Linked DNA regions of Homo sapiens: regions 2, 3, 4, 5, 6 and 7 are each linked to region 1. A link means that fine-mapping ties the variant in region 1 to the plasma level of a protein whose gene starts in the linked region. Region 1 holds a variant in brackets. A gene starts in each other region. All regions are shown on their forward strands.

What was found. PIP is the chance, under the fine-mapping model, that this variant and not a neighbour inherited with it causes the effect. Protein levels are from antibody-based Olink assays in UK Biobank. Linkage for the fine-mapping came from a reference panel and not from the study's own genotypes, which makes the PIPs less certain.
Region 2: it holds the start of FCRL1, and the variant in region 1 is fine-mapped to the plasma level of the FCRL1 protein (UK Biobank, PIP above 0.99).
Region 3: it holds the start of IL12B, and the variant in region 1 is fine-mapped to the plasma level of the IL12B protein (UK Biobank, PIP above 0.99).
Region 4: it holds the start of ICAM3, and the variant in region 1 is fine-mapped to the plasma level of the ICAM3 protein (UK Biobank, PIP above 0.99).
Region 5: CD83 starts here. The variant in region 1 is fine-mapped to the plasma level of the CD83 protein (UK Biobank, PIP above 0.99).
Region 6: CD1C starts here. The variant in region 1 is fine-mapped to the plasma level of the CD1C protein (UK Biobank, PIP above 0.99).
Region 7: it holds the start of IL12A, and the variant in region 1 is fine-mapped to the plasma level of the IL12A protein (UK Biobank, PIP above 0.99).

The regions. Positions count from the first base shown.
Region 1 is chr13:28,028,358-28,032,451 of GRCh38, forward strand. The region is part of intron 15 of FLT3 (fms related receptor tyrosine kinase 3); the gene reads right to left. Among named protein-coding and RNA genes, the nearest start is that of URAD, 42 kb to the left of the region's middle. The variant T/C (reference allele first, on the strand shown) is at 1,513.
Region 2 is chr1:157,817,754-157,821,753 of GRCh38, forward strand. It overlaps FCRL1 (Fc receptor like 1), which reads right to left and starts at 2,367. Exons shown (of 11, transcript NM_052938.5): 1 at 2,254-2,367. The coding sequence starts at 2,284.
Region 3 is chr5:159,328,469-159,332,562 of GRCh38, forward strand. It overlaps IL12B (interleukin 12B), which reads right to left and starts at 2,019. Exons shown (of 8, transcript NM_002187.3): 1 at 1,964-2,019. IL12B-AS1 (IL12B antisense RNA 1) reads left to right here and starts at 3,050. Exons shown (of 5, transcript NR_037889.1): 1 at 3,050-3,572.
Region 4 is chr19:10,337,990-10,342,083 of GRCh38, forward strand. It overlaps ICAM3 (intercellular adhesion molecule 3), which reads right to left and starts at 1,635. Exons shown (of 7, transcript NM_002162.5): 1 at 1,550-1,635; 2 at 693-959. The coding sequence starts at 1,625. RefSeq lists enhancers at 241-989, 1,275-1,374, 1,595-1,644, 1,738-2,485, 2,486-3,233.
Region 5 is chr6:14,114,406-14,118,499 of GRCh38, forward strand. CD83 (CD83 molecule) reads left to right here and starts at 3,367. Exons shown (of 5, transcript NM_004233.4): 1 at 3,367-3,443; 2 at 3,545-3,660. The coding sequence starts at 3,407. RefSeq lists silencers at 2,693-2,987, 3,115-3,234 and cis regulatory regions at 2,730-3,638, 2,978-3,794, 2,978-3,633, 3,799-4,094, 3,870-4,094.
Region 6 is chr1:158,287,785-158,291,878 of GRCh38, forward strand. CD1C (CD1c molecule) reads left to right here and starts at 2,139. Exons shown (of 6, transcript NM_001765.3): 1 at 2,139-2,341; 2 at 3,350-3,616. The coding sequence starts at 2,281. It also overlaps a transcript of CD1B not described here.
Region 7 is chr3:159,986,090-159,990,089 of GRCh38, forward strand. IL12A (interleukin 12A) reads left to right here and starts at 2,746. Exons shown (of 7, transcript NM_001397992.1): 1 at 2,746-3,085. The coding sequence starts at 3,070. IL12A-AS1 (IL12A antisense RNA 1) reads right to left here. Exons shown (of 10, transcript NR_108088.1): 9 at 3,008-3,204. RefSeq lists enhancers at 405-1,604, 2,456-2,956, 2,957-3,457, 2,957-3,006 and silencers at 2,517-2,716, 2,787-2,836.

The DNA.
Region 1 (4,094 bases):
TTTTTCTCAGCTCAGAGTCAATCTGCATTATTTATTTAAATTCAAAATTATGAGAGAAGCCAGGCATGGTGGGTCATGCCTGTAATCCCAGCACTTTGGGAGGCCGAGGTGGGTGGATCACTTGAGGTCAGAAGTTCAAGACTGGCCTGGCCAATATGGTGAAACCTCGTCTCTACTAAAAATACAAAAATTAGCCAGGCGTGGTGGCAGGCACCTGTAATCCCAGCTACTTGGGAGGATGAGGCAGGAGAATCGCTTGAATGTGGGAGGCAGAGGTTGCAATTAGCTGAGACTGCACCATTGCACTCCAGCCTGGGCAACAAGAGTGAAACTCCATCTTAAAATAAATAAATAAATAAACAAACAAACAATATCCTGTGTTTTAAGACAGAATTTCTCCTTTTTCTTTTTTTTTTTTCCTTTTCTTTCTTTCTTTTTTTTTGACACAGTATCTCACTCTGTCACCCAGGCTGGAGTGTAGTGACATGATCTCAGCTTACTGTAGCCTCTGCCTCCTGGGCTCAAGTGATCCTCCTACCTCAGCCCTCCAAGTTACTGGTACTACAAGCACAGGCCATCATGCCCAGCTAATTTTTATATTTTTTGTAGAGATGGGGTCTCACCATGTTGCCCAGGCTGGTCTTGAACTCCTAGATTCAAGCAATCCTCCCAACTCCGCCTCCCAAAGTGCTGGGAATACAGGCATGAGCCACCATGCCCAGCCTAAGGCAGAATTCAGACTGTAGTATAGGGCTGGGCGCAGTGGCTCACACCTGTAATCCCAACACTTTGGGAGGCCAAGGCGGGTGGATCACTTAAGGTCAGGAGTTGAAGACCAACCTGGCCAACATGGTGAAACCCTGTCTCTACTAAACATACAAAAAATTAGCCGGGCGTGCCGGTGCGTACCTGTAATTCCAGCTACTCAGGAGGATGAGGCAAAAGAATCCCTTGAACTGGGGAGGCAGAGGTTGCAGTGAGCCGAGATTGAGCCCCTGCACCACTCCAGCCTGGGTGACAGAGCGAGACTCTGTCTCAAAAACAAAACAAAACAAAACAAAACAAAGACTATAGTATAAATGTTGAATCTGGTAATGCACCTTTCAACAGGACTTTCCTCTACCTACCAAAATAAAAATCCTTACAGTTGGCCCTCAAAACAAACAAACAAAATAATAACACATGCTTTTCCTCCTCAGTACAAGTTAACAGAAGGGAGAAACGTCCTTTTTGTTTGTTTGTTTGAACTCTTGGATCTGTTGTAGTCAGAGAGAGATAACAGTGTCGTGAGCATGGTTGACTCTAGCCTGTGGCCCTCAGGTCTAGAACATTAGATTTGCCAGCAAGTCCAATGGGAGAAGGTCAAAGAGGACTAATTCCCACTATCAGGTGCTCAAGAGACCCATTAATTGACATTGAGAAATAAAACTGCCAAGCAGGCTAGAACATATTGGTTGGCCAATGCATTCTCTCTCTAGGGAAAATTCCAGATAGCTCAGCAAACTGTACTTA[T/C]AAGCTGACTTAGAAGCACAGTGTGAGGAAAGTCACTATGGAATCCAAGGGCTCCCGTCATTGCGGCTCATGTGCAGTTGGTCAGGGCAGCCCGGGCAGCCACAGGGGCAAGGGCAGGGTCTCTGGACTTCCCTCTCCAGGCTCCAGGCACCACCCCTCTGTGAACAGACTTTTTCTTCCAGATATAGTAACTCTTCTTTACATTCAGTGAAGATTTGGTTCGATTGCCAGGTTCCATTATTTTGTCCAGGAAGGCATCCTAACCTTTATAGTGGCTTCTCCGGTGCTGACATCCTCTATTTTGGTTTGGGCAAGCTCTCAGGGGTATCCTTGTTTCCAAGATTTTAGCTTGGGGGTGGGATTTCCTGTGGGCACTGGGACCCCCTAATACATCATGTCTTCAGCTTCACGCTGGACAGGGATTCGGGGCTTTACTTGTTCATGTCCTATTCCTCATGGCTAAAATAATATCTTACATTTTTTAGCATGCTTAGCTTCTTCTAAGCATTTTCATGTACCATTACCTCTTTCATTCAGTCATTCAACAAGTATTTATTGAGTGCCTACTCTGTAAGAGCCAATGTCCTAGACACTGGGGAATGAAGGAAAAACAAGACACAACCCTTGTCTTCCTGGATCTTAGAGTCTCCTGGAGAAGGCAGAGAAGTAAATAAGCCATGACAATACAGTGCCATAAATGCAATACGGCAGGCAAGACGTGGGTCCCCGCGCCTCTAATCCCAACATCTTGGGAGGCTGAGACAAGCGGGAGAATTGCTGGTACCCAGAAGTTCAAGAAAGGCCCGGGCAAAATAGCAAGAGCTTGTCTCTACTTAAAAATAAAATAAAGTAAAAATACATAAATAAATAAAATAAAATAAAATAAAAATTAGCTGGGCTTGGTGGTGCCTGCATGTAGTTCCAGTTACTGGAAAGGCTGCAGACCATCACTTGAGCCCAGGACTTGAAGCTTGCCGTGAGCTATGATGACTTCACTGCACTCCAGCCTGGGTGACAGAGTGAGACCCTATCTCAAAAAAAGAAAAAAGAAAGAAAAAGAAAAAATGCAACGTTGGGCTGGGCACGGTGGCTCATGCCTGTAATCCCAGCACTTTGGGAGGCTGAGACAGGCGGATCACGAGGTCAGGAGATCAAGACCATCCTGGCTAACACGGTGAAACTCTGTCTCTACTAAAAATACAAAAAAATTTAGCCGGGCGTGGTGGTGGGTGCCTGTAGTCCCAGCTGCTAGGGAGGCTGAGGCAGGAGAATGGCGTGAACCCAGGAGGCGGAGCTTACAGTGAGCTGAGATGGTGCCACTGCACTCCAGCCTGGGCGACAGAGTGAGACTCCGTCTCAAAAAAAGAAGAAAAAATGCAACGTGGCAAAGGAGTGCAGGGGTACTGTAGGGTCAAAAGGGATAGCTACCTTAGCCTTGGAGGGGTGGAGAAAGGAGCATTCAATGTCTAAACTGAGTCCTGAAGAAAAATGGGAGCTGGCCAGGTGACTCATGGTGGAAGGGGAGGAGAACAGTGCTGAGGGTTGTGAAAGAGTGGGCAAAGGTCGAGAAAGGAGAGAGCACAGCACCACAGACACAGACCCTGCCCTCATGAGGCACAGGGGCTACTGGACAGATGGGACAACAATTGGATGTTAAAAAATGTCATGACAAAGGTGATGGATTCTACGGGGGAAAGCCTGCAGAGAGCTAATGTCGCACATTGCAAGGGCCTCAATATTGTCTGTGGTGTGAGACAGAGGAAGTGGTGTTTAAGCTGAGATCTGAGGGGGCAGTGGGAGATACTTACATGAAAGGGGAAGGGGAAGCAGAAGGATCCACTTGTGCAAAGGCCCCACAGTGGGTGGGAGGACAGTGCTGGGGGAACTGAAAGAAGGCCAGCGCTCTGGGGTGCCGAGAGCAAGAGGTGGGGAGGCAGCGGTGGCCCAGCCATGCGGGTGGTGGAGGAAATGTGAAGTAGGAAAGCCATTTGATCTGCTTAGCCTTTCGCCACTGTCACTTGGACCTCAGTATGGAGAAGCCAAAGGGAGGCAAGAGTGGATACAGGAACCTGCTTTGGAAGCTTTTGTCCAGGAGAGAGCCTTGAACTAGAGTGGTGGTCATAGAGATGGAGGGACGAGGATGGAATCAAGAGACACTAATCGGAAACCTGATAGGATTAGCTCACAGGGTGTTAGAAAGAGGAAGGTGTCAAGGAAAAGTCACGGGTTTCTAGTGTGCCCAACTATATAGAATGTGGTTATTTATTCACTGGCATTCATTACCAGTCACAGAGAGGACTGCTGGTGCAGGGCCAGGGTTAGGGGAATTCACCTTGCATACACTGTGTTAAAGGGACCTTTGAGACATCCAAACATTTAACATATGAACCTGAAGCTCCGAAAGGAGACGCAAGCATGAGGGCCCTTGGTGTATGGGAGGACATCACGGGTGTAGTGGGGATGGACTGTGTTGAGTGTGTGGAGCGAAAACGCAAGGCGGTCCAGGAGCAAGCCCACAGGGATGCCCCATAAAAAGCTGGATGGAGCCTGGGCAACATGGCGAAGCCCCATCTCTACCAAAA
Region 2 (4,000 bases), not on the chromosome of region 1:
AAAAGTACTTGCAGTCAATACATCTGAGAAAAAGTTAATATCCAGAATATATAAGAAACTCAAACAACTCAATAGTGAGAAAACAACCCTATTAACAATGGTCTAATTCTCAAAAGAAGAAATGCAAATGGCCAACAGGTATATGAAAAAATGCCCAATATCACTAATCAACAGAAAAATGCAAATCAAAACCACAATGAAATATTACCCCATACCTATGAAAATGACTATAATCAAAAAGACCAAAGATAACTAGTATTGTCAAAGATGTCGAGAAAAGAGAATCCTCACATGCTGTAGGTGGGACTGTAAATTAGAACAGCCATTATGGAAGACAGTATGGAGGCTCTTAAAATATAAAAAATGGAACTACCATATGGTTCAGCCATCCCACTACTGGACATGTATCCAGAGGAAATTAAAGCAGTGTGTTAAAGAGATATCTGCACTCCCACATTTATTGCAGCACTATTCACGATAGCCAAGACAGCATCAATGTAGATGTTCATCAAAAAATTAATGGATAAAGAAAATGCAATATACATACATGATGGAATACTATTCAGACATAAAAAATAATGAAATCCTATCATTTACAACAACATGGGTGAGCCTGAAGGATATTATGTTAAATGAAATGAGGTAGGCACAGGATGACAAGTACTGCATTATCTCACTCATGTGGAATCTGAAAACGTTGATCTCATAGAAGGACGGTGCAGAATCATGGTTACAAGAAGCTTGGGTAATAGTGGGGAAGGAGGAATGAGGGAAATGTTGCTCAAGGGATATATAATTACAGTTAGATATGGGGTGTGTGTCCAGAATAGACAAATATAGAGAGACAGAAAGTAGATAATGATTGCATGTGGCCAGAAAATAGAGGGGTGAGGATAGGTGAGGCGTTGGAAAAAAAATTGGGGATGCCTGCTAGTGGGTATGGCGTTCTTTCTTGGGTGATGAAAACATTCTGAAATTGATTGTGGTGATAGTTGCACCACTCAGTGATTGTCATAAAAAACCATTGGATTGCATAACTTAAATGGTGAATTGTATTATATGTGAATAATATTTCAATAAAGCTGTTTTTAATAAAAGATACTGTAGCATGTTTGTATACTTATGGGAATAATTTAGAATGAAGAAACATATTGATGATGGAGCAAACTTTTTGAGAAAGTAAGAGGGTCATGGGCCTAATGCACAAGTGGAGAGTCTTGTCATCAACAAGATGAGGGGCAATATATTCGTGGTAGGGGAAGAGAAGGCAGTGTATGTGAATGCAGAGGTGAGTAGGTCAACAGCAACAGAAAGATGAGAGAGTTTTCTTCTGACTGCTTTTATTTTCTCAATGAAATATGAAGCAAGATTACACAATGAGAGTGAACAGAGAAGTATGAGGTGACAGGATAAGGTATGCAATAGTGATAATGGAGCAACATGGACTGTGAACATGTAGGATAATTGCCTGGCATTGCTGTTGGCTACCTGAGATTTGGGGGTCCTACACTTAAAAGGGGATAAGTCATCAGGGTTGTGCATTTAAAAAAAAATCCCATTCAGCTGTTTATGTCCAGGAGTGAAGCATGCAGAAGGGCGTGTAAACCAGGAGAGTGCTATGGGGGAAGAGAGATGAAGGTGTGCTCGAGGGAGTGTTGTGGTGGTGAGCTGCAGAATCTGAGCTGAGCACCATGAGAAGTGAGCACATGAAGTGTAGTTACTGATAATGGAAAAGTAGCCCTGGGGTAATTGAAGTCATGTTGGAAATAGAGTGCAGGAGAAAGTGAGCTAGAAACACAACTTAGTGGGGGTGGGGGATGTATGCTGAAAACAAAGGAGTGATGATAAGTTCTAAGGTTTGACTGTGGGAATGGGGAGTCAGAGAGGGATAAAAGGAAATAACGTTGGTAGTAAGAAGGGCAAGGAATTCAGAGGCCTATTTATTATACAGATTTTTCTTTTGGCAGCTGTTGAAAACACTGAGAACAAAGACAATTATTGATGGAAAGGAAGACAGACAGTGAACACTTCCTATGAGATAAAAACTGAAATGATAGTTTTCTTGAAAACTCTGGCTTTTTGAAATATCTACAACTTTTTGCCTGACTCTGAGCCCTCCGTGGAAGTGGAGATCTGAGCACCCCTGAGCATTACCTGACAGAACCTTAGTCCTAAGAAGTCCTTACAGCCCTTCAGGAAGCAGAGCCCAAGCATGATTGCATCCCATGCCCTGCTCTGAGTTGCCCAACTCACCACAGATCAACAGCAACAGCCTCGGCAGCATGAGGACCAGGTCAGGGATGGTACCTAGAGATGCCTCTCATCAAAAAAAGAATGCACCTCAGAGTCGAGCAGCAGCAGCTCATCAGAGGTTTGAGGAAGTTGATATCGGAAGTTACCCTTCAGCAGAAGTAGAAGGAAGAAGAACCCTCTAGTGACCAGTCTCCATTTCCTTTTCTATGAAGTCTGAGAAAATTAAAGATGCTCCTTTTTAAATATAGTTTGATTCAGTTCCACAAGCTGCAGATAGTACACATCAATATTTGAGGGACTTTTTCAAGAATTCAGGTATTTCAAAGGAAGTTTTCTAAAGGCAGTTTCCTACTTTGATGAGTCTCATCAGGTTATGGTCCTGCTGAAATTCATCTTTGATACATCTACAATACTTTTCACCTTTGATAGGGATGTCTCCTGGATTGTTTCTAATTGGCACATTCTTCTTGCTCAGCAATATAGTCCCACTATGCAAACTTTCTCTAGTATAGTCATATTATGCAAACATGTCATTAAATCAGGGACTGATGGGGCTGTCACCCCGGTTATGTGTAGTGTCTGACCCTTGCTGCATATGATGACTTATGTACAGGGTCAACCTATTCATACAGATATACGCTTTGATATTCAAACTTTCAGTGTACCAGTAAATGAGCATGAAATCACTGAAAAATAAAATCACGGCAAATTACAATCTGGGGGATATTTGAAAATGAAATACAGAAAAGAAGTATATGCAAATTAGCTTCAGGGCACTTGAGAAGGGTTCACCATTAGTACTAACTCTGGCATTTGTAAAATTGCCCCTCTTTTCCCTCAAAATCAGGGCACCTATAATCTCTCCCATTGCTACCTTTAGCACATTAGGGATACCAGTTCTAGGCAAGTGAAGCCTAGATTAGGGATTGGAGGAGAATAAGCTATCTTAATTTTCAACATTTCTTAAATCCGTGAGTGTCTAGGATTAAGAATAACTAGAATGTGTGGAAAGTAACCTATTAGGGGAAAGATGCTGTCAGGCAATGATGTCTAAGTCCAGGTATCCAGCTCAATGAGTATGACTGAGAAAAGAAACTATTCAGTGATACGCAAAACCAGAGGGAAAAGGGAGCAATGTTGGTAACCAGGCTAACAGCGAAAGTGCTGAAAACGAATAGGTATTCCATAGCTTTATTTATTGGCTTAGGAAAGCCTGTGTGGGGATAAGCTTGTTTAGTGTAAAGTTTCAGGACCAATGCAAAAAAATCTCCTGAATGAGAATGTAGAGCCCTTTAAATCCAGGGTGTAAAGCTGTTTTTGCATACACTCTGCTGTTTCATCTCTCTCTTTTTCTTTTAATCTGTTGGTTTTTTTAATGTTTTAATTGACACATTGTAATTGTACATATTTATGGGGCACAGTTTGACATTGCAATATAATACATATATATGTTGTACAGTGATGATCAAATCAGGGTGGTTGGCATATCCATTGTCTCGTGCAGTTTTCATTTCTATGTGGTGAGAACATTCAAAAGCCTCTTTCCTAGCTATTTTGTAATATATAATACCTTACTAGTAACCATAGTTACCCTACTGTGCAATAAAACACCAAACCTTATTCCTCCTATCGAATTGGCACCTTGTACCTGTTGACCAATCTTTCCCTCTCTTCCCTCCTCATTCCCTCCTCAGTCTCTGATAGATGCTATTCTATGCTATACTTCCATAATATCAACTTCTTATTT
Region 3 (4,094 bases), not on the chromosome of region 1:
TTGTTGGGAAAGGCAATGAGATAACATATTATAGAAGGCAACCAATAACATATTAACTTGAACCTAGAGGAAGAGGTAAGGGAACAATTCGGTATCTGTGTTTTATATATCATGGATAGTCAAGAAAGTCATTCTAGGCAGTAGGGAAATGTGCACAGAGGTACTGCAATTACATGCGCCTGTAAAACCCAGAGGCTGGCACACTGGAAGGGAAATAGTGGAGATTCCTGGCATCTCCTGGCCACTTACGCTGAGGTATTCCCACTAGCTGTGTGCCCAGCACTTCCTCTGCATGCCTCAGATGCATTTGACAATCTCAGGTGAACTGCACTTCAGGGTCAAGGGAACCCCGGCCATGGTTCTAAGAAGCAACTCCCATTTTAGTATCACCTACATTTGAAACCACAGAGCACTGTCCAGGAGAGGTGATGGTGGTGGGTCTCCTCCTTTGGCTCTCTGGCCCATCAGCTGATACTAGGGAGCGCTATCCCTCAGCCCACATTTCTCAGCATGGTAAGTCTGAGAGTCTTGATGATTAAAACACATTTTTGTGTGTGCAATTTCATAGGTTTTCTAAACTCTTGAAACCCTTGCATGAAGGACAAAGGGACCCCACGTTACACACTCCTACTTCCTGGAGTATGCTAAGGGCTTCCCAACACTGGTGCCAACATCAGCATGCCAATGACGCTTGGGTGGGCATCTCTTTTTTAAGTTTTGTTTGTTACCTTTAATTAGAAAAGGGAGTTATTATTAAAGAATAAAAAGATATAGTCACAGATGGCATGGGTGGCACATGCAAAGATCCCTAGTTTGAGGGCCAGGCAGACTTCTAGAACTGTGTGACTCTGGGTGAGTCACTTGGCCCCTTTAAGCCCCACACTCCTGATCTATAAAATGGGCATGCTACTGTGGTAAGGAGTTAGTGACATAATTCACGTGAAGTGTCATGGTGCCTAGATGAAGTCAGGACCCACTATTTGCTCCCCTCCTTCCACAGCATTTACTACAATGGCAACAATACAGTCTCTTCTTTACTGTTTGTCTTCTCTGCCACACTGAGTGAACTCTCTTATGCCATGGATCATGTCTATCTTGTTTTGCACTTTACCCCCAGAGTCCAGCACAGAGGGATTCCATGACTTATTAGTAGCATGAAGGAATGTACGGAAATCATACAATTTCAGATTCCAGTAAACTAAACTCTAAGAGGTTACCCACATTCCATCTAGTATCTTGCAATTCCTTGTTTGAAAAAGTGGGTCATCACCTGGGGTTTAGTAATCCCTTTGTTAAAATGACATTGTTGTTGCACACAATTTTACCTGGGCAAGTAAAAAAACCTTTTTTTCCCCCTTCTCACAGATTTAAAAACTCTTTAGGAAGCAATAATAGCTTTTCATTTTTTAACTGGGGCCAAAGTTAGTTAATCCACAAGAATGGGGATCCCAGCTGTCATTTTGGTTGATATCACAACTGACGACCAAGACCATCACAAATATGGGAGCAAGTCTGATTTGTAACATTATTATAATTATGAATCCAATTACTTTAAGGAATGCACGAAAGGCTTTTTAAAAATTTCAATAGTAAGGCAGGCACCACTCACTTTAGCTCTATACAATCCTTTAACTGATGGGCATTAACATTTAGGAATATACTTTTATACATCAATACACACCACTTCAAAATAAGATAAAACAAACATTTCCACAAACTATGCATACACACAGATCTTGCTATACAGTTATTATTAGGTGGCTTTTAAAATGGACACTGTACATCGGTCCCTAGAGTACTAAGTTTTCACTAATGTTCCAGCAGATGACTCACCAGGGATGCTTCCAGGAATCCACCAACTCCCTCCTGCCAGCTGCTGGGGTAGCACACTAACGGTTTCTACACCTGGACAGCTGCAGGCCCACAGGGAGGGGAGGGAGGTAGGGGCTTGGGAAGTGCTTACCTTGCTCTGGGCAGGACGGAGAGTCCAATGGCCCTGAAACAGATGTTGTTTCTTCTGCTGCTGTTGCTGGTACTGGAACTTATATACTCTACTCCTTTCTGATGGAAACTTAAACTAGAAACTGACTTGTTGCAACATTGAAAACAACTCTCAAAACCTTCTGGGGGAATTTCAAGAAGTTCCTTTTTTGTTTGTCTCTCTCTGTGTGTGTATCAATAACGAGGAGGGAACATAGACATCAAAATCCCAGGTAATGAACTAAGAGGAAATGACTTTTGGGTGGGGAATAAGGAAGGAGATGGAGATGCTAATTTCTCTGGGTTTACATCATGGCCAAGGTGCTTGGAGACAGCACTAGGCAGATTCCCTGGGTTCCACAGATCGAGGAAGAAGGAAGGCCAAGGGGCGGTCAGACGGGAGGCTGAGTTCATGTCGGGATGGAACAACTGTATGCCCAAGGGCTTAAAAACAAAATCCTGGTTCTTCCCAAGTCAGAGAGGATGAGATGAAGGGCAAAGGGTTTAGTACATCTGGGGCGCCTTCCTCCACATTAGTCCTTTAATTTCAGAAACATACTATTTACCACCCATCTTGGCTCCATGCACCTCTCCCCACATTCCCCGAGTGGGAACACACGCGTGCACACACACACCCATGCACATTTCATACAGACACAGACCTGGGGAGATGATAAAACTGCGTGTACCACTAATAAGACTCAAATATGTGCACATCCTGTGCTCATAGGTACTCGCTCATAGGGGCGGATGGGAGCAGAAAGTGAAATACCCTCAGGGAGGCATACAGACAACCACACTCAAGGCACCCCCCCTTGGGCACCCAGACTACATCCTCATTTCATTTGCACACAAATCTATGGCCCTAGGGGCTCCGTGCAGATGCACAGGAATAGCGGAATAAAGATATCTCTCGTGGTGGAATTTCAAGTTGCTAAGAGGTATGCAAAGGTGTACACCGGTGTGGACCCCCCCATCCCCCGCCCAGTCTGCACGTGAACAGGAACATGTACCTGCACGTATACCAGGTACACGCAGACAGATGCGGGCCATCCCCAGAGCCGCCGACAGAGGTCGCTGCGAGACGGTACCCGCGCCCCACAGTCCACCCGCTCCTCGGAGTCCCCCCGCGCCCCGGAGTCCACCCGCGCCCCGGAGTCCACCCGCGCAGGTCCACTTCTCCATCCCTGCTCTCGACCTCCGCCCCTGCGGTGGGGGAAGTTCCTGGGGCGGTGGCTGGGACCAGGCCGGGTTTTAGGCGGGCGCAGATTTCCGGGCTAACTTTCCTCGCCGTCTCAGCGCGGGAAGGGGGAAATGGGAAACCCGGGCCAGAGCAGCGGAGCTTCCCAGCCGCACACTTCCTCCCTCCAGCCGTTTGTCTCGGCAGGGGAGGGCCCAGGCAGCCAAGCCGGCAGGCCCACTGGTTATCCGACCTTGTGCTCTGGCCGTGGGTGGAGACCTTACATCCAGCTCAGAGCGCCTCCTCCCATCCCCTGTGTCCTCTAGGCCTCCCCAGACTTTGCCTTTTAGCCTTCCAGTGAAACAAGTTCTGTATCCAAGATATACAATTAAGTGGACAAAGCAGATTGCAGGTATGTTTTTTCGTATGATACCATTTGTGGGGTGTGTGTGCGTATGTGTGTAAGTGCACCTGCACTTTTCACAACTGGTATCTCTGAGGCATATGTAACAACTGGGGGAGGGGCTTTTTGTAAACATGTATTAATTTCCTCCGATCCATCACTAAAGTGTACTGAACAGAAATTGACGTGAAGTAGTTTCACTAATTTATTTACAGTGGCTGCACCACCACAGATGAGTCCTTGTGCCCCCCCATAAATAAATACATGCATAAAATAAGACAAGTAAGGTTCAAAATGACACAAATATTTTATTCATGTGTTCGTAAAAGCACCTTGAAAATTAAAAAAAAAAAACTGTAACGTAAAGTCTCAGTAAAAATCCAGCGCCAGTTATGCAAAAGAAGCTTCGAAGTATGCCCTCATCCTCCCTTTTCCGCTCAGATTGCAGCCCGAGGGCTAGTCCTATATGAAAGGGCCCCCAGTGTTCACCTCCACCAGGGACAAGTAATAGGGTTTTAAGAGCATGGGCTC
Region 4 (4,094 bases), not on the chromosome of region 1:
ATACAAAACTTAGCTGGGCATTAGCTGGACCTGGGAGGCAGAGGTCGCAGTGAGCCGAGATTGCACCACTGCACTCCAGCCTGGGCTACAGAGTAAGAGACGCCATCTCAAAAAAAAAAAAAAGCTTGTTGGGGCCGGGCGCAGTGGCCCATGCCTGTAATCCCAGCACTTTGGGAGGCTGAGGTGGGCGGATCGCCTGAGGTCAGGAGTTCAAGACCAGACTGGCCAACATGGTGAAATGCCATCTCAACTAAAAATACAAAATTTGCTGGGTGTGGTGGCGTGCATGTGTAATCTCAGCCACTCGGGAGGCTGAGGCAGGAGAATCACTTGAACCCAGGAGGCGAAGGTTGCAGTGAGCCGACATCGTGCCACTGCACTCCAGCCTAGGCAAAAAGAGCGAAACTCTGTCTCAAAAAAAAAAAAAAAATGCTTGTTGGGGCCCAAGTTAATTGATTTCACAACTGCTGCCTTGGCATGAGATTGAGATGCGTCTCTATATCTCTGTCTCTGTCTCTGTGTCTCTGTCTCTGTCTATCTTTGTATCTCACACACAAATGTCCAGGTCTGAGCTCTGGGTCAGAACTGTGGTCCATTCTTTGCAAACTGAGGGTCCCCACTCTCCTGAGCCATTGGCCACTTGCCCACACCACTACCCAAGACCAGTCCCACCTCCGGACACGTCGACTCACTGTACACGGTGATGTTAGAGGAGCCTGTTATCTGAGAGCCATTGCAGTACACTGAGCAGAGGATCCGACTGTTGCCAGTCACGTTGCTGAGATTGAAGGCTGCCCAGCCCATGCCACTGGCCACCAGCTCCTTTGATAGGGACGTCTCCAAGGCGATTTTCTCAGAGCTGGGACAATCAGTACTGCAGTTCACAAACAGGGACCCTCCAGCAGAGAGCACAGGGTTCTGGGGCTCCACCCGCAAAAGGAACTCCTGCCCCTGGACACCTTCAGGAACATGAAGAAGTCCTGGTGTTTGTTTCCTTGTCCCCCAACCCACGCATCAACAGGCCCCACCATTTAACACCTCTCTCCTTGTGCCGAGACAGAAGGGTTCCTGCCTTCATGGTCCAGTGGGAAAGGTAGAATCCATCAGAGACCGGGGAGAACTCAGAAGGAGGCCAGAAGAGGCTCTGATCCAGCATAGGAGGAGGTGAGTCAGGGAAGGCTTCCTGGAAGCGGGGACCATTGCAGCCCGAAACTGAAGGCTAAGTAGGAGTTAGCAAGTGAAAGGGACAGGTGATCCTGGCAGAGGGAAGCACATACGCAAAGGGCAAATTTCAGGAGTTCAGATGGAGCAGGAAGCATGAGGGGTGTGTGTGTGTGTGTTAGGGGAGAGGGATGGCGTACAAGCCTATGCTGGGGCCTGACCACCTGAAGGCTGAACTAAGGAACCAGAACTTTCTCCCGAGGATACAGAGTCAGCGGCCAGGTCGCAGTGTGGCAGGATGTGAACAGCGTTGCGTTCTATTCCTCTACCCTCTACTGATCCCCAAAACGCAGCCCTCTCCAGCCCTCCCCGGCTTGACTGGTCTCACCTGGGGTCAGCAGACAGCAGACCAGCAGAGTCCAGCAGGCCCTGGGCCACAACACGGATGGTACCATGGTGGCCATTCTGACAGAGGAAGGTGCCTTCCTGAGGTGCCCGAAGGGCAGGCAGGGGAAAAGGCGGGGCCTCCCACTGCGACGGAAGCACAGCGGTTAAGATTGCAGAAGTCTGGGGACTGCACCTTGCCCAGGCCTGTGGGTGGAAGGGGATGCTGTGGCCCTTGGGGGCCAGGGTGGGGGACCCAGACGGGGCTCTGCAAAGTGGCCAGCACTGCTGAGTCTCCCCCAGGGAATGGGCTGGTCCCAGTTGCACTGCTGGCCCCCATTTGAATTCACAGGAAATGCTAACTAAACTGGTTTCTTTTGTTCTCAGCACTGGGAAGCCTGGGTGGGGGGGATGAGGCATCTCCTTCTGGCTGAACTTAGGTGGGTAGGGGAATATTCTGTCCCCAGAGAGGAAGTTAATGGGGAAAACTGTAGGCACCATTGTGTAGATGTTAAGGTGGGATTTCGAGGAAACATTAAAAAACAAAAACAAAAACAGAAACAGAAGCAGAGTCTTGCTATGTTGCCCCGACTGGTCTTGAACTCCTGGCCTTAAGATGGCCTCCTCTCATCTTGACCTCCCAAAGTGTTGCGATTACAGGCGTGAGCCACCACGCCTGGCCACCTTTGAAGATCTTGAGGATACCTCCCTATCTTTGAAGATCTTGGGGATCCCCCATCCCCTGCACAAAGAGCTAAGGTAGGTGATTTGGGGACAGCTGAGTCCCTGAGCCACTGTCTATCCAGGATTCTACTTGGTTTTTGTTTGTTTGTTTTGAGACAGAGTCTCACTCTGTCACCCAGGTTGGAGTGCAGTGGCGGGATCTCGGCTCACTGCAGCCTCTGCCTCCCGGGTTCAAACGATTTTCCTGCCTCAGCCTCCCGAGTAGCTGGGATTACAGGCATGTGCCACCACGCCCGGCTAATTTTTGTACTTTTTGGTAGAGACGGGGTTTCACCATGTTGGCCAAGCTGGTCTCAAACTTCTGACCTCAAGTGAGCTGCCCGCCTTGGCCTCCCAAAGTGTTGGGATTACAGGCGTGAGCCACTGCGCCCGGCCTTCCAGGATTCTACTTGTAACTGGCCTTTACCCCATCCTGTTGTCCCCTTGCCCACCCTTCCAGGCAGCTGGTCACTGCATTCCAAGGGAAGGCGCCAAGGGGACCAGGTGGGACCCCCACCTTTGACCTGCCTCTGACCTCAGGCCTCTGACCTGCCTTCTGGGCTTCACATCTGAGCTCCAGAGAGAGAGGCCTTGTTGAGAGCCTTGATGGGGCCCTGCACTCACCCACTTTCCCCAGACCTTGAGGTCACAGCACCTCCTCTCTCATCTAGAGCACCCCCACCTTCCTAAGCAGGTCCCTCCTCTATTCCTCTACCTTCCGAACAATCCATTTCCCACCTGGTGTTGAGAGAGCAGCTAAAACCCAAGTCTAGTGTATTTGTAAACAGCAGGGACCAGTAGCATGGGCCTGGTGCCTGTAGTCCCAGCTCCTTGGAAGGCTGAGGTGAGAGGATCGCTTGAGCCTGGGAGGTCAAAGCTGCAGTGAGTCGAGATTGTGCCCCTGCACTCCAGCCTGGGAGACACAGTGAGACCCTGTTTCCACAAAAAAAAAAAAAAAAAAAAAAGATGTCGGACTTACTGGCTCACGTCTGTAATCCTAGCAGCACTTTGGGAGGCTGAGGTAGGTGGATGACGAGGTCAGGAAATCGAGACCATCCTGGCTAACACAGTGAAACCCCATCTCCACCAAAAATATAAAAAATTAGCTGGGCATTGTGGCGGGCACCTGTAGTCCCAGTTACTCAGGAGGCTGAGGCAGGAGAATCACTTGAACCCAAGAGGCGGAGGTTGCAGTGAGTGGAGATTGTGCCGCTGCACTCCAGCCTGGGTGACAGAGCAAGACTCTGTCTCAGAAAAACAAACAAACAAACAAACATATATATATAATTTATAATACTTACGTAATAGTGAGACCCTGTCTCTAAAAATAAAAAAGAAAGAAATATTTGTAAATAAGTCATATTTCTTTTTTGTTTTTTGAAACAGAGTCTCACCGTGTCGCCTAGGCTGGAGTGCAGGGGCACAATCTCAGCTAACTGCAATCTCAGCCTCCTGGGTTCAAGTGATCCTCCCACCTCAGCCTCCCTAGGAGCTGAGACCACAGGTACACACCACTGTGCCTGGCTAATTTTCTGTAGAGACGGCTTTCACCATATTGCCCAGGTTGGTCTTGAACTCCTAAGCTTAAGGGATCTGCCTGCCTCGACCTCCCAAAGTGCTGGGATTATAGGCGTGCCCTGCTACACCCGCCAGTAATATTTCTGATAAAGAAGTATTTCTGGGCCAGGTGTGGTAGCTCACGCCTGTAATCCTAGCACTTTGGGAGGCTGAGGCGGGCAGATCACGAGGTAAGGAGATCGAGACCATCCTGGTTAACACGGTGAAACCCCATCTCTACTAAAAATACAAAAAAAAATTAGCCCCGT
Region 5 (4,094 bases), not on the chromosome of region 1:
GAAAGTAGCAACACAATGTGAAGGTATCCAGGAAGAAATCTATCAAAAGATGTGAAAAACCTATATATATATAATTTTAAAAATTCTTGAAGACCTAAATAAATGGAAAGATACACAATATGGGATGAATTTGTAGAACTGACTTCTAAAGATGTTGATTTTAGGAGATTTATAAATTGAATATATTCCTACTAAAATTCAAATCAAGTTTTTTGAGGTTCACAAATTGATATAATATGTATAAGGTAGAACAAAGAACCAAGAATGCCAGAACATTTTTTTTTTTTTTGGATACACAGTCTTGCTCTGTCACCCAGTCTGGAGTGCAGTGGCACAATCTCGGCTCACTGCAGCGTGGACCTCCTGGGCTTAAGCGATCCTCCTGCCTCAGCCTCCTGAGTAGCTGGGACCACAGGTGCAAGCCACCATGCCCGGCTATTTTCTGTATTTGTTATTTTTTTGCATTTTTAGTAAAGACCAGGTTCACCATGTTGCCCAGGCCAGTCTTGAACTCCTAATCTCAAGTGATCCGTCCACCTGGGCCTTCCAAAGTGCTGGGATTACAGGCGTGAGCCACTGCACCCAGCCACCAGAACGATTTTGAAGACGAAGTTCAACATGTGAGGACTCACTTCCACCACAGCAAGACTTAATTAAATTATAGTAATAAGAAAGTGTGATATTAGCACAAAGAGAGGCAGAATAGAGTCTAGAAACAGGCCCACTCATATGTAGAAATTTGTATAAAGCACAGATGTCATTTTAAATCAGTAGGGAAAGAAGGACTTTTAGCAAGCAGCATTGGAAAAAATGGTTATCCATATGGAAAAAATAAGTTAGATCACGACATCAAACCATATTTAAATGGATTAAAGACCAACATATGAAAAAGCATGACTTTAAAAGTTTTGGAAGGAAATGAAGGAGAATGTTTTTATGATCTCAGGTCAGGAAAAGATTTCTTAAACACAATACCAGAAGCACAAATCATAAACCAAAAGATCAGTAAATTTGACCACATGAAAATATTTTTTAAAAACTCTTTGGTAAATTAAAGATATCATAAACAAAATGGAAAATACAAATCTTAAACTTGGAGAAGAGATTTGGCATGGATATAACCAAGAAAGGATTTGGCCCAGATTTTATAAACAGCGCTCATGGAAAAGGCCAAAGGATATGAATGACAATGCTCAGAAATATCCAATGTTCTTGAAGCATATGTTATCAATGTAACATAAATTAAGCAAAAAGGATCTAATATTTCACACTCATTAGATAGGCAGAAATTTAAAAAGATCTGGCTGGGCACGTGGCTCACACCTGTAATCCCAGTACCTTGGGAGGCCAAGGTAGGAGGATCTCTTGAGCCCAGGAATTTGAGACCAGCCTGAGCAACATAGTGAGACCCTATCTTTAAAGAAAAAAATCTGATCATGCTAAGACCTGCTGAGGGGAGTGTAAATGGGCATGTGCATTTTGGATAATAAGACGGCAATATTTAACAATGCAGTGTAATTACTGAGCTAGAGTGTTGGAAGACTTTCAGCTCCCCTGCAACATTGTTTATAATCAGGAAAAACTGAAAAGAAGCATAAATGGCTAGGTATGAGATCTGGCAGAGGACACATAGTGGGTCTCAAAAGACCATCCTGGCTAACACGGTGAAACCCCGTCTAAAAATACACACACAAAAAAATTAGTCGGGCGTGGTGGCGGGCTCCTGTAGTCCCAGCTACTCGGGAGGCTGAGGCAGGAGAATGGCGTGAACCCGGGAGGCGGAGCTTGCAGTAAGCTCAGATCACGGCCACTGCACTCCAGCCTGGGAGACAGATCGAGACTCCGTCTCAAAAAAAAAAAAAAAAAAAAAAAAAGAGGGTCTCGAAAATGTTAGTACTGTTTTATTTCTCAAGAATAAATTGTATACAGATGTGTTCAATTCCATATTTTCTATACTTATTTTGTATGCTTAACATTTTCACAATTAAAAAATTAATTTGGTGAGGCTGCTGGAGAAAAGGTACTCACACAAGCTGGCGGGACTGTCAATTGATATAACTACTTCCAAGAGCAGATTAGAACTGGTGGTATAGTGATGCCACTCTTTTTAACCTCTTGGATGGACAAAGATAGAAAGGTTGGATAACAGTTTGTGTTGGCAAACAGGCACTCTCTTTGCAGATGGGAATATAGATTGAAGACACCTCCTTGCAGGTAATTTTTTGGCAATATTTGACAAAATTGGAAACTCCCCTTCACCTAGCACAATTTCCTTGAGGTATTTATTCTAAGAAAATAAGCAATTTTAGAGCAAAGATTTATCTACACTGAAGTTTCCCATAGCAATCACAGTATTGTTTCTAATATTAGTAATACAAAAAGAAACAACCTGTATGTCTAACACTAATCGATTCTAATTTATGGTGCAACTGAACAATGGACCAAAATGATGCTGTTGGAAGTTTTTAATGATGTGGAACCGCTTGCAAATTATTAAGCTAAAAGAAAGTAGGTTACAAGATAGCAGGAAGAATAAACCATTAAAAATACCAATCTGTGCACTGACAAATGTTATAAATATTTTACGTTATGTTATGTTATAAACATTTTATAATATAAAAAAATGTTAACTGAAGTTACTTCCTGGATGAATTACAGGTGATTTCATTGTCTTCTAGAATTTTCTTTTCCAAAAATGTTGTGTATGCGTGTAATTATTATTTTAATAGGAGACACTCTCCTTTGGTGATATAATTTAAACAGGACGGTACTGACTGATAACCTCCCGGGGAAGGCAGGGAGCCAAGTACTACAGACTTGTATGTTTCCATGGAAATCTAACGCGCCTTTGATTATCACAGATTCTGGAGAAGAGTGAGGACTTGGGTTCACCAGTGCGTTCCCAAGGACAGGCTGGGCTTCTGAGGAAGTTGCCCACCCTCTCGGAATCTGGTTTGGCCTCCGTAAAATGGGCAGATCCCGCTCGGATGGCCCGGTTCCCGGCTTCCTTTTGCGGGTCAACGGCAGCGTCACGCGCGCGAGCGCGGTCTGCAAAGCCCCCAGCGCTGGGCGTCACGCGGGGATTGCTGTCGCCGCTGCCAGCCGCAGCAGCGACGCGAACTCGGGGCGCCCGGCCCGGGCGCGCGGGGGCGGGGACGCGCACGCGGCGAGGGCGGCGGGTGCGACGGGGGCGGGGACGGGGGCGGGGACGGGGGCGAAGGGGGCGGGGACGGGGGCGCCCCGGCCTAAGCGGGACTAGGAGGGCGCGCCACCCGCTTCCGCTGCCCGCCGGGGAATCCCCCGGGCTGGCGCGCAGGGAAGTTCCCGAACGCGCGGGCATAAAAGGGCAGCCGGCGCCCGCGCGCCACAGCTCTGCAGCTCGTGGCAGCGGCGCAGCGCTCCAGCCATGTCGCGCGGCCTCCAGCTTCTGCTCCTGAGCTGCGGTAGGGCTCGCGAGCGCCTGTCTCGCCTGTCGCCCCCCGCCCCTCCACGACACCCCCTCCCGTCGGTCGCTTGCTCACGACGCGCTCTCTCTTTCTTGTAGCCTACAGCCTGGCTCCCGCGACGCCGGAGGTGAAGGTGGCTTGCTCCGAAGATGTGGACTTGCCCTGCACCGCCCCCTGGGATCCGCAGGTTCCCTACACGGTCTCCTGGGTCAAGGTAGGTGCTGCGATACCCACGGGCTGGGGTTTGGTGGGCTCATTTGAAGACAGCAGGAACCATCTCCCCTAGGCTGGCGACCCTCTGTGGCTGCCAGGTGGGGGCGAGGGGCGTCTCCCGCAGCTGAACTTGGAGTACCCAGCCTCCCGTCGCGCCTCCCCCACCCCATCCGCATCCAGGTACAGGGCCGAATTAGGTTTTGCTCTCCGCAGACCTCAATCCCCTTCCTGTCACTGAAGGTGGCCTGAGATGAATGATCCACTTAAGATGTTTTGGAAGGGCAGAGACTCTCATTTGGATTAATTCTGGAGGCCACCTGTGGTTGTGGGCCAGCAGGTCAGGAAGAAAGCAACAGGGACCTAGATTTGGGCATTGGACAGGGGGAATGTCTCCAGACTTCTGATTTCTTGTGTTTTGTGACTGTGATGCCCATG
Region 6 (4,094 bases), not on the chromosome of region 1:
AGGCTTAACACAATGAAGTTTATTTCTCATGCAGTTAAACTGCATGTAGATCAGGCTGCTCTTCTCCATCTCATAGTCTTGCCATTTAGAAATTTGACTGCCAAGTTGGTACCACAGGGTAAGATGATCAGATGTGATATTTTCAGTGGTCAGGACTGGAGCTGGCTAATGCTTCCAACACCACACATTCCATTGCCCAGAACTCAGTCCATGACCTTAACCCAACTATTAGGAAATAGGACAGTTGCATCTTTCCTGTAGGAACATGGAAAAAAATGTGAATAAACACATAATGTGGTATCTACTATTGTTTTCTAAAACCACAAACCAAGTATTTGCCATTAACAGCACAAGATGAGCAAAGATAACACCTAGTGCTTATGAATGATTTGGGTAGGATTTGAACTGGGTATTGCTCTTAAAGATATTATAGTTCATAGAAATTGCCACATATCTGTGGCCATGATAGGAAGAGCTCATTGAGAATGACTTCTGGCCTCACTATTAACGTTGACAAACCTAAGAAATAGTGTATATATCAAAGTATCATGTTGTACACAGTAAATACATAGAATAAATATAAATTTAAAACAGAAACAATGTTACAAATGGGATTTTCCTTTTTAAGGCACGGTCTTGCTCTGTTACCCAGGCTGGAGTACAGTGACATGAACATGGCTCACTACAGCCCTGACTTTCAGGGCTCAAAAGATCTTCCTGCCTCTGCCTCCCATTTAGCTGGGACTACAGGCATGTGCCACCACATTTGGCCAACTTTTTAATTTTTTTATCGAGATGAGGTCTAACTTTGTTGCCCAGGCTGGTCTCAAACTCCTGGGCTCAAGTGATCTTCCCACCTTGGTCTCCCAAAGTGCTGGGATTACAGGCATGAGTCATTGTGCCTAGCACAAATTCATGCCCAGATTTTAAGTGACTGCTCCAATGCATTCAGTGAATAATTAATATGATTTAAGAAACACTATAATAATAAATGTATTTCCTGGATCTCAAAAAAACTGTGTTCATGTATTTACACATATTAACCAGCCAGGGTCACTGATAAGTCACTGAATACTTCATATAAACTACTTAAATCAAACATTGACAAATGCTGCCCTTTTTATACAATGTGTTTTGGTCAGATCACAAAACAACTTAAATTTGGATTTTTGTGGTCTCCCCATGTATGAGTCCTCTTGAAAAGCTGCATGTTCTGACTATCACAATCGTATACCATTCCACACTGTACAGAATTTTCAGTATTTAGTTGAGATGCATGCTGTTCTTCCAGGACTTCAAATTATGAACTTCCCAGGGGGTTAGTCAGTCAAAATGCTGCTCTAGAGAATATAGTTCTAAGTAGATTTGTATCTGGGATTCTATACATTGAAATTAAAATCACAATGCATTTTAATTTTTTGTTTAAACATCTGCAGTTTAAAACTCTTTGATAGAAGAGATTACATTGTTAACCTCTGTGTGTTTATATGCCTAGTAAGACACTGGTATCAACCATGTACTATGTAATTTTTTAGTGAATGACTATACAGATTAAATGCAGTAGAAGGGCTTCTTTATATTTGTTATGGTCCTATGCATTCTGAATGGCTGCAATTTAATCTCTAAGGATAATGTAGAGTGGACTGTAGTTTATATAATTGTGCAGGGAAATCTTGGAAGATGTAAAAAGCAACGTCTCCAATTTATAAAAGAATCAGTGAGAATGAGGAAATAAGAAAGATGGGTGAAAAGAGGTGAAATTGGAAAGAGAAAACTTTGAGGACATTCAAAAGGGGGAAAGAAAGAATGGAGTGATGAGAAGAGGGGACACTATGGAGAGTGGAGGCAAAGTTAAGTGGAGAAACTGGAAGAACTGTGATCTATTAAAACAAGCAGGAACTGAAAAAATGACATGGTTTCTCCTTTTTATCTTACAAATGACATGCAAAATCCAGAGGGACAAAATGACCTTTCTTTCAATGCCATACACCACTTTGTCTAAGGCAGTTGAGGAAGGGAAGTAGATATAATGGAGCTTAGTGGCAGAGCAGCTGGAATCCTGAGAGAAGAGAATAACTTTAGTTCAGAGCAGGTGGGGAAATGAGAGATTGAGTAGGAGGACCAAGGTTGAGGGAAGCAGATCTTCTTAGTTGCTGTCAGCGGCTGATGGGGAAGATTGTTGGTAGAAGGAAGTCAGAATATAGGTACAGAGGGATAAGTTTGCTAAGAACAGAGATCAGCAAACAGCTTTTCTGAGAGAAAGAAACATCTGCAAATGACATGCTGTTTCTGCAGTTTCTGCTGCTAGCTCTTCTTCTCCCAGGTGGTGACAATGCAGACGGTAAGAACATCGCTGTCAGCTGCAAGGTTACATGTATCTGGGTAGAGTGTGCTGGGCTTTCCCGAGATGGATCAATAGAGATGCCAGAATGCTTGCCATCTGAGCATACCTGTCTCCAGGTCCAGTTTACTCTTTTGGAGGATGGTGGCAGAGCATGGGCTCTGTGTAAGGAAAATGTTATAGCTAAAGTAGTCATTAATGTTTCTCTGTGGTAACTGGTTCAATTTCCATTTCCTCTCCATTTTCCGTTAAAACAATCAGGGCCCAGGAAAATGATGTGGTTTCTCCTTTTTATGTTACAAATGACACGCAAGGTCCAGAGGGATGAAGCAACCTTTCAATGCCACGCACCACTTTGTCTAAGGCAGTTGAGGAAGGGAAGTAGATAAGATGGAGCTTAGTGGGAGAGCAGCTAAAATCCTAAGGGAAGAGAGTAACTTTAGTTCAGAGCAGATGGGGAAATGAGAGATTGAGTAGGAGGCCTAAGGTTAAGGGAAGCAGATTGTCTTAGTTGCTGTCAGTGGCTGATGGGGAAGATTGTCTGTTGGTAGAAGGAAGTCAGAATATAGATGTAGAGGGATAAGTTTGCTAAGAACAGAGATCAGCAAATGGCTTTTCTGAGAGAAGGAAACAACTGCAAATGACATGCTGTTTCTGTAGTTTCCGCTGCTAGTTCTTCTCCTCCCCGGTGGTGACAATGCAGATAGTATGAACATCTCTGTCAGCTGCAAGGTTACATGTATCTGGGTTGAGCATGATGGGCTTTCCCAAGATGGATCAATGAAGAAGCCAGAATGGTTGCCATTTGAGCATACCTCTCTCCAGGTCCAGTTTACTCTTTTAGAGGATGGTGGCAGAGCATGGGGCTCTGTGTAAGGAAAATGGTATAGCTAAAGTAGTCATTAATGTTTCTCTGTGGTAACTGGTTCACCTTCCATTTTCTCTCCATTTTCCTTGCCTCTCTTTTTTTTTTTTTCCTTACACTACTTGCCCTTCTTCCACCAAAAGCATCCCAGGAACACGTCTCCTTCCATGTCATCCAGATCTTCTCATTTGTCAACCAATCCTGGGCACGAGGTCAGGGCTCAGGATGGCTGGACGAGTTGCAGACTCATGGCTGGGACAGTGAATCAGGCACAATAATTTTCCTGCATAACTGGTCCAAGGGCAACTTCAGCAATGAAGAGTTGTCAGACCTAGAGTTGTTATTTCGTTTCTACCTCTTTGGATTAACTCGGGAGATTCAAGACCATGCAAGTCAAGATTACTCGAAATGTAAGTTCAATCATCTAAATTATGGGAGTTCTTTAGAATGTTCTATTTCAGGGAAATATTCTCTACTAATTTTTGGGCCATTTCCCATTATCCCATCCCACCATAAAATTCTGCATAGATGAACCTTTTAAGGGATATTCCTGATGTTGACTCCCTCAAATTTCCTAGGCTCTTGCTATTTTTGGAATTTTTTTTCTTGTGCTTTGTTATCTTCCACCTGTGGTCTCCCTCTGTATCCTACAATCCAGAGATACACAGCTGTCCCACTCTGTGCTTGACTCCCTTAAAATAAAATCTATTCCCCCATTCAATTTCTTCAAAGATCTATGTCCACAGTTCAATGACCATTATGACCAATTTCATGCGTCATGGAATGCTATCCTCCTACCTCCCTCACAAAGGCTCCCCCTTCACCCTCTATCCTATATTATGTGGCTCACCTATCATTTTTCCACATCTTCCTTGGCCACTTTTTCTT
Region 7 (4,000 bases), not on the chromosome of region 1:
CCAGGAGTTTGAGACCAGCCTAGGCAACAAAACTAGACTCCGTCTCTACAAAATACAAAAATAAAAATTAGCTGGACATGATGGTGTTGCCTGTGGTCCAAGCTACTCAGGAGGCTGAAGTGGGAGGATCACTTTAGCCCAGGAGGTCAAGGCTGCAGTGAGCTGTGACTGTGCCACCACTACACTCCAGCCTGGGTGATACAGTAAAACCATGTCTCAAAAAAAATTTTTTTAACTTAGTCATAGATTTTATTACATCTGTATTTTAGAGTAGGCTTATTATTAAGTTTCTGAGAAAATTTATTTGTAGCTTGTATTGGAATTACATTGAGCATGTGAATTAACGAAAAGAGGCTTAAGCTTTCTATATAGAGAAACCTTCCACCCAAGGGTATAGAATTATTTAATTAAATCACACTATATTCTTGACTGAACTTTAAAATTTTTCTCCAAACACTATTCTGTAGTTATCCAAGCTCATGTAATAATCATAATAACTCTATACTGTAGGTACTTTTATTATCATCATTTAACAGATGAGGAAACTGAGCCCAGAGAGATAAATAACTCACCTAAGAACACACAGCAAGTAAGTAGCAGAACCTGGATTAACATAGTTTAGTCCATACTCTTAGCCATTATACTGCCTCTGTATCTACAGTCAGTTACTTTATAGTTTGGCTGCTTCTATGCATGTCATCTTGTTTTTATTACATTTTCTGATGGATTGTTGCAGATACAAAGAAAATCGGCTGATTTTTTTTAAGTTGATATGTGTATTGCATGATGTTGTTAAATTCTCTTCTTAGTTCTAATAGTCTATTAATTTTTTTTCTTTTTGTATATCAACTGTAAAAAGTGACAGTTTTACCTTTTCTTTTCCAATGTTTAAAGCTCTCATTTCTTTTTCTTTCCTTATAGCATTGGCCGAGACCTCCACGACAATGCTACACACTGTGAAGTAGTGATTGTGAGCTAAGACTGTCACTTATAGAAAAATCATGTATTCCTAGAAGAAGGTTTTCATTTCATCTTAGCTAGAGGACATGGAGCACTTCAGGAAACTATTTCACAAAAATGTAAATTAGAAACTGTGTCTGGTAGCCAATAATCCATTTTTAACAGTGGCCCTGTGCTCATCTAAGCAACAGAAATTACTTTTGTATAGGAGATGGCCCTTCCAGGGGAGAAACAGCTCAGTTGTGATACACTTGTCTTCATCCTGACTTTAAGTACATTTAACTCCACACTAAACCCTTGTGGCCACAACACAGCTCTGCACCTGTCATTTGCTCTAGACAAACTGCTAAACGCAATTGTTTCTGACAATGGATTACTCTGTATCCCGTGGGGGAATTCTCAGACAGCAGCATTAGAAGGGGCCTTAGAGATCAACCATTTCTCTTATTTTACACACACCTAAAACTCCCTACAGCCGTGCTTCATCAGCTTCGAGCAGATGAGCCACCCAGAAGGCAGCTCCAGTTATTAGGTCCTAGGGCCTGGGTGTAGTCAGGCCCTTTGGAAGCTCCAAGTCAGAGATCAAACACATCCTCCCCACTACCCACGCCTAGGGTGACTAATGCCTGTGGGAAAAACAACTGAACTAAAAAGTCCCACAGGAACCTCAAACCCAGCACATCCAAAATGGAACTTCTCACCATCTCCTCCAAACTCAGTCCTCTTATACAGTAATCCCTGTAAAGCTAGAACAATCTCCATTCCCCATTCTCAGGGCCTTCCTCTCCCGCTCACCTGAGGAGCTACCAAGCCTTGGCCCACAAGCCCTCTGAGAGTCCCTCCTGCCCACCCTGTGTTCTCCATACTGAATAAGGACTTGGCCACACCTTGTCAACTCTTCCCTCTGCTCTACTCCTGACCCCTGGATCCATCCTTCATGCTGTGGCTGAAGGGATCCCCCCATCATGCAAATTCTGCCACATCTCCCGCCTAAAACCCAGGAAGACTCCCCACTACTCTCAGCACAGAAAGTACACTCCTTAGTATGGCATCCCCTGCCCTCATGGCATGGCCCCATCCAGCCCTCCAGCCTCACACCCTGCAAGGACACCTAGACCCCCACCTCCCTCAACCCTTCATGACTGCGCTTCTGATCCCTGTTTCCCCTGGCTAGACCCTGCGTGCCCTCCCGCTGGAAGCGGTCTAATGCCTGCTTGTTTTTAACACTCAGGTTGGGGCCCCTGCCTGCTCCCGGGAGCCTTTGCTGACTCCTGGACCCCGTTGCTCCGGCTGAGCGTGGGCTCTTTCTCTAGGTCTTTCCTCCCAGGACTCTGTGTATTCATCCTATCGTTAAACTGGATTCTCTACAAGAGTAATAATTGCAGAGTCAGCCAGCTCTCATCCCTTTTCAGGTTTCAGAAAAGACCTGTGAACAAAACGCCTTGAGTCTGATTTAGTGTGGCAATGCCCCAAGGGTCCTGTTCTCCCTGGGTGTCCTGCACCTGGTGCAACGTCGGCCTGGCATCTAGTGAGCCATCTAAAGGAACGATGATGAGTGAATGATTTGCCTACCCCTTCCAGTACTAGGCTGGAGGTCGTGGTTAGGGCCCATCCCTACGCAGGACATGCAAAGTGGGAGGCACTCCTCTCTCTACGTCGGCAGGGGGCGCTGCACAGCTGCGGGGCGGGGTAGCTTAGACACGGGGCGTCCGGCTAAGGCCGGGGACCCAGGGTGGTGGGCGGGGTGTCCCGCCCGCCTGTGGACCCCGCGCAGTAACTGCGAACATTTCGCTTTCATTTTGGGCCGAGCTGGAGGCGGCGGGGCCGTCCCGGAACGGCTGCGGCCGGGCACCCCGGGAGTTAATCCGAAAGCGCCGCAAGCCCCGCGGGCCGGCCGCACCGCACGTGTCACCGAGAAGCTGATGTAGAGAGAGACACAGAAGGAGACAGAAAGCAAGAGACCAGAGTCCCGGGAAAGTCCTGCCGCGCCTCGGGACAATTATAAAAATGTGGCCCCCTGGGTCAGCCTCCCAGCCACCGCCCTCACCTGCCGCGGCCACAGGTCTGCATCCAGCGGCTCGCCCTGTGTCCCTGCAGTGCCGGCTCAGCATGTGTCCAGCGCGCAGTGAGTACTCAGCCCGCCAGGTCTTTGGCTCGCTCGGGTGCGGAGGGGCGGCTGCTTGGGAAGAGTGGGTAGAAACTCAAGTCTGCCTAAGGAGAGACTGGAACAGCAGCAGCCGTCTCCTGCAAAGAGGAATAAGAATAGGGGTCTCACCGTGTGCTAAATAGGGCATGTCTCTTTTCATCTCGAAACAGCCTGATGAGCTATCATTATGCCCACTTCGTAGAGGAGAAACTGAGGCCCAGCGTGGGAGATTTCCTGCTTTCCTGCCTAGGGTCCCTCAGCTACAAACAGAAGGCAGATCCTAGCCAGTTCTAAAGTCAGGCTTGGCCGGGTGCAATGGCTCACGCCTGTAATCCCAGCACTTTGGGAGGCCAAGGCGGACAGATCTCCTGAGGTCAGGAGTTCAAGACCAGCCTGACCAACATGGTGAAACCCCGTCTCTACTAACAAATACACAAATTAGCCGAGTGTGGTGGTGGGTGCCTGTAATCCCATCTACTCGGGAGTCTAAGGCAGGGAAAATTGCTTGAACTCGGAGGTGGAGGTTGCAGTGAGCCAAAATCGTGCCACTGCACTCCAGTCTGGGCCACAGAGTGAGACTCCGTCTTAAAAAAACAAAAAAAGTCAGGCTTTCTCACTCCACTGTTTTTAAAACACTGGGTCCCAAGTCTGACTCAGCCACTTCACCACCTGGTCTGGGTTTCCCTGATCAAAAACATGTAGGCTTTCTCTGGGTGAGTGTTGGGTTCAACACCCTTGTCCAAGCTCATCTCTAGACCCTCACAGGGAGCTGGCTTCTAGCCCTAGAATAGAGTGGCGCTTTGTAATAACTCGAGTCATCTCTCAGGTGTTGAAGGAAAAGTGTTGGAAATGGGTTGAGGGAGGTGGGTGCCAAGCATGAATGGATGGGTGAAG